Linked DNA regions of Homo sapiens: region 1 is linked to region 2. Evidence: fine-mapped expression QTL. Tissue or cell type: whole blood. Region 2 holds a variant in brackets; the other region holds the start of a gene. All regions are shown on one strand. Distances are between the middles of the regions.

Region 1 (2,606 bases), 38 kb after region 2:
TCCTAGGTTATATTAGTAATGCCACAAAGAGTAATATTAAAAGCTAATGATTTATAATGTTTATACTGATGATTGATAATTGTCCATGATCATCTCTATATCTAATTTGTATTGTAACTACTCTTTATTCTAACTATTTTCTTTATTATACTGCAACAGTTTGTGCCTTCAGTCTCTTGCCTTGGCACCTGGGTAATCCTTTGCCCACAACTCCTGACCTCAGGTGATCCTCCCGACTCGGCCCCGCAAAGTGCTGGGATTATAGGCGTGAGCTACCGCATCTGGCTTTTTTTTTTTTTTTTTTTTTTTGAGACAGAGTCTTGCTCTGTCGCCCAGGCTGGAGTGCAATGGCATGATCTGGGCTCACTGCAACCTCTGCCTCCTGGGTTCAAGCGATTCTCCTGCCTCAGCCTCTCAAGTAGCTGGGACTACAGGCACCTGCCAACATGCCCGGCTTTTTTTTTTTTTTTTTTGAGATGGAGTCTCACTCTGTCACCCAGGCTGGAGTGCAGTGGCGTGATCTCTGCTTGGCGTGATCTCTGCTTGGCGTGATCTCGGCTCACTGCTACCTCCGCCTCCTGGGTTCAAGTGATTCTCCTGCCTCAGCCTCCTGAGTAGCTGGGATTACAGGCTCACGCCACCACGCCCGGCTAATGCCCGGCTAATTTTTGTATTTTTGTAGAGACGAGGTTTCACCATGTTGGCCAGGCTGGTCTTGAACTCCCAACCTCAGGTGATCCTCCCGCCTCGGCCTCCCAAAGTGCTGGGATTACAGGCGTGAGTCACCGCGCCCGGCTTCGTTCTTTCTTGTCTCCATGTCTTTGTATGCTGTTCTCTTTGTCTAGACAGCCTTTTAACCTCTATTCCTGAACTCCACCCACCCTTCCAAACTCAGTAAAGTCTCTATCCTCTTTGAAGCCTTCCCTGACCAGCTACACTTCCTTTCTTTGTATCATTGTCTTTGCTTCATACACAGTTCTAGGATAGCTCATACTTTGCATACTGCAAACTTGATCTCCATTGGCCAGCCAGTGCCATTAGACTCCCAACTACTTCGGGGCAGTCACTGTCCTATACCCTGCTTCAATAAAAGGAAAATCAGCCCCTAGAACAGGACCTAGTACAACTAAGTGCACAATAAATACTTGTTAAATGAATGAATGAATTTCAAGACGCTTGAGACCACTGGTAAGAATTTTGGGTTTCCAAAACCCTCCCCTTCCCAACCCCCATTCGGTAAGAATGCTTTCGCATTAGCATCAGGTCCGAGGTTACTCATTAGAAACTGGGCAAAGCCGGAAGGCGGCCACTTTGCAGCAAAGAAGCCCTAGACCTTGGGAGTCAATCAGGCCAGCCCAGGCCGCACCACGGTCTCCTAGTTGACAGTTCGAGGGGCCTCGCGGGCCGCTTGCTTCGTCAGCTTACAGGGATCCCGCACGCCAGGTGAGCCCACACACTGAGCGGACATTGGGGCAGGCAGGCAGGCGCCGGGGGGCGGGGCCAGCGTCGCCCCGCCCCGTCCTGCCTCGCCCTGTTCGCGCGTCCGCTGTCCGGCCTCCGGTCACGTGACAGCAGCGCAGGTGAGCGCCGCTTCCGGGGTCGGGCGCCTGGATAGCTGCCGGCTCCGGCTTCCACTTGGTCGGTTGCGCGGGAGACTATGGCGTCCTCCTCGGTCCCACCAGCCACGGTATCGGCGGCGACAGCAGGCCCCGGCCCAGGTTTCGGCTTCGCCTCCAAGACCAAGAAGAAGCATTTCGTGCAGCAGAAGGTGAAGGTGTTCCGGGCGGCCGACCCGCTGGTGGGTGTGTTCCTGTGGGGCGTAGCCCACTCGGTGAGAACCAGCCCTAGACCCCCGCAGCCCTGTCCAAACCCCTCGGCTCCGAGGCGTCCCTGTTTCCAGGCTCCAGCCTCCGGAGCCCCACGCAGTGCCACTCCCCTCCCCCGGGTTGTCTTGGTCCCTGCCCACCAACCCCAGGTGTTCCCCCAGCAGGTTTTCTGACTGTGGACTTTTTTCTCCCCAACAGTTCTTTACTGCTCCACTCTAGTTCCACCTTCCCCCCGTGAAATCCAGCTCCCTGTGCTTTGACTCCTTCCTGCCATGTCTAGCTTCAGCCTCAGGCTACGCGGACTGGCCAGGACCGGGCGCAAGCGGGGAGGACATTAGGGGGAGTGGCTTTTTCTCGGGTGGTTGTTGGTGAGAGTGTAGGTGGAGGGTGAGGGGCCGAGGGGAGTAGATGGATGAAAAGGTTCTTTCACTTTGCTTTCCACCTTGCTTCCCAGCCCCGGTCCTTGGCTTTTGAATCTTGGTTTTGTCTCGGGGAAGCTCCAGGTTTCCTGGGCTTTCTAATCCTGCTTGTCCCTTCCTTTCCCTTCCAGAGGTACAGCATTTTAGAGAAGCTACCCCACCCTGAGCTAGAAGTTGCACACTCTCAGGACTTATGTATATATGCCTTTGGTCTTAACTGCATCCTTATCGCTGGCTAGAGCGATCGTGTTTGGTGTAGGTGGTGGCGATTGTTGACCAAAGAGAAGGCTGAGGGGCTCTGTTCCTGAGGTCACTATGGTGGTGAACTTTTGAAGCAGGAAACTGCTCTGGGAGTCAGGAG
Region 2 (2,756 bases):
AGGGAAATTCTAGGCCTTGCCCACTCCCCCTGAGGTTGGTAGGGACCTCAGGCTGTGTGTGGGGAGAAAAGATCTGGGGTCGAGTCCTGTAGGGCTTGAGGGGTGCTGGGCCAGGAAACAAAAACTAGCTTGAGGAGGGAGGGGCATGTACGAGGGCAGTCAAGGTCAGAGGTGCTTCTTATGTATCTTTATCCACAGTGCTTGGCACAGAGCACCTGGACACAGGCTTGTTAAAGGAATGAAGGAAAGAAGGGGAGGAAGCCTGGGCCTTCTGAGTCAGTGAGAATGGGACTTTGAATAAACATGCTTCGGGGGAGACCTGCTTACCAGTCCCCAAGGGCCCCAGTCTGTCACCACCTTGCACCCTTACCCACACTGTTAACTCAAATGGATGCTTTTGGTCTCTCTCTCTCTCTCTCTCTCTCTCTCTCTCTCTGTGTATGTATTTGCCACATGGAGAGGGCCTCTGTTTCTTTTTGCTTCAGGGACCTCGCTGGCCCTGCAGTCTGTTCAGTCTGGCTGGGCTAAAAACAAAACAAAACAAAACAAAACAACCACAAAACAACTCCTGGATCAACTCTGGAGGACCCCTCTCAGAGTGTCCTGGATAGCCAGCATTAGTTGTGAGAGTTGGAGCTTCAGATCCCCCTGAGACATAAAGGCTGAGAAACAGGAGGAGGGTGATGATGGGGGCAAAACTTTTAGGCCCAATTTCCTTGCTCTGGGAGGTTTTTCCAGTAAGACTGAACCAACTCCTTTAGGCTCTCTGGGCCATCCTAGTATAGTGGGATGGGGCAGGGGGTGATGTTGGTAAGAGGGGTGTGGTGTCGATCTGTTGTTAGCCCAGCTAAACAGGAGAGACACACAGTGGGAGGTGGGCAAGGAGGAAAGATGAATAGAAGCCCCAGGCCCCCTGCCAATTCAGATTCCATCTCAGCTCCACAGCTGGATCTTCCTTGTCTGTTTTGCCTGATATCTGTAGGGCTGTACCTTTGTCTTGCTCGTATCTTCCCTCACCCTAGCCCTCCCTGTCAATCTCTCACTTGAAGATAAATGCTTACGGGGGGGCCATTTTGTCTTAGGCAACATCCTTGGAGTTTGCTTTTTCAGACTTAATATTCATTCATCATTTAGGGAATGAGGGCTACAGGAGACATGATTTTTAGGAGACCCTTGAGGGTCCCAACAAGGGAAGGAAATTCCTACTCCTTTTTCTCTTTTCCCCTCTAGCTCTTTTTGGAGCCCACCAGGTCGG[G/C]AGCTGGCTTAGGAATTAATGGGGGAGGCTGCTTCAGGATGTCTAGGAAGGTGCGGGAAGAGTGAAGGTGGGAGAGATAATCTTTCCCAATGCAGCCCCTACTCCTTCCTGTGACTGCTCTCCCCTTCGCCTCTGCAGCACTGCGGCCAGCGCTGAGCTTCAGAGTCCCTTCTGTTCGTGGGCTTTGTTCTGCTTGTTAGAGGGTAGGAGAATAAGCTGGAGAGACAGCTCTGTGTGCCTTTTTTCTCCCCTACTCCTCTGACTTCTTCCAGGAACCTGGGGGATGGGGCTTAGCCAAAGTTAATGGCCTGAGTCATAGCAGAAGGGTGTCTGGGTCACCGTCTGTGTGTGGTGCCCATCTTGTTTTGCTTTTGCACACTCAGAATCCAGTGTGACTTTTTCGCCAGACCCATTTAAGTGTCTGTCTTCCTCTGCCTTGGTCTTTCTCAGCAGTGTCCCAGTGCCTGCTGTCTGGACTGCTGCATCTGTACCAGATGTGGGAGGGATGACAGTGAAGAAACACATACATACACACACACACTCTTTCTCTTTCCCCTTCATTCAAGTGTACACAGCTACCTCCCTCAGGTCTCCCAATGGTTAAGTGGGTTCTTAATGCAAGAAACTAGGACCATTGTGTACCTCACTTGGCAAAGCTAGGTTGGGACCTGCAGGGTTATTGGAGCAGAATCAGTATTGTTTGGGGTGGCCTGGGATTTGATATCTGAAGTGGGGAGCAGGGCTGTCCTTTGCTTTGGGGGAGTCTCATAAAGAAAAATGGAGACGAGAAGTAACGTTCATTGTGGCCAGTGTCTCTCCAGCATTACCATGGCAACAATCCCCACGGGTGTCACTATGGAAATCAGGCCTGGCACTTGAAGTTCAGCTTATACCAAGTGCTTTACTGAGGGTTGAACAGGTTGGTCATCTTTGGACCCCTGATCTTAAACCCCCAGCCCCAATTAGCTTCAGTCAGCACACATGATAGAAAAGTACAGAAAGGTGCTGGGATACACAAATGGAAGAGGAGACACCAGGGAGGCTCGGAGTGTGATTAAATTAAAAGAGAACAAAGAACCCTGGACTGTGGGACTCTGAAGAGAGGCCCTTCAGAGAAGGCTATAAGGAGCACTTAGACTGCTGGGGGTGGGAGAGAGATTGGATTTCGGCGACATTTCTAAGAGGAGGAGGGACTCTGTGACTATTTCTCATTAACAACTCACAGAGTCTTCGATTACCTGGAGGTAGAGAGGGTGGGTGGCAGAATTACATACTTCTGAAAATGGGATTGAGGTTGGAAAAAGGGAGTGATGAAAGGCTTTAGTTCTGTCTGGAAATACTTGGAAAAATGCCCAAATGTGAGGAGGGGGGATATGGAGTAGGGGAAGAAAAAGCCTTGATAAGGCTCTGACACAGTGTTGGCATTTCAGTTCTTGGATCACTTTGCAGTGTGGGTCTGGAATCAGATTGCTTGAATTTGAAACTGTGCTCTACCATTTCT

Evidence for each region. PIP is the estimated chance that this variant, and not a neighbour inherited with it, causes the effect.
Region 1: PIP4K2C starts here. The variant in region 2 is the best candidate, but not a certain one, in a credible set for the expression of PIP4K2C in whole blood (INTERVAL, PIP 0.70).

Annotation. Positions count from the first base shown.
Region 1 is chr12:57,589,633-57,592,238 of GRCh38, forward strand. PIP4K2C (phosphatidylinositol-5-phosphate 4-kinase type 2 gamma) reads left to right here and starts at 1,560. Exons shown (of 10, transcript NM_024779.5): 1 at 1,560-1,831. The coding sequence starts at 1,658. RefSeq lists enhancers at 1,168-1,217, 1,298-1,799 and a silencer at 1,398-1,657.
Region 2 is chr12:57,551,472-57,554,227 of GRCh38, forward strand. All of the region lies in intron 1 of KIF5A (kinesin family member 5A), which reads left to right. Among named protein-coding and RNA genes, the nearest start is that of KIF5A, 2.8 kb to the left of the region's middle. The variant G/C (reference allele first, on the strand shown) is at 1,256.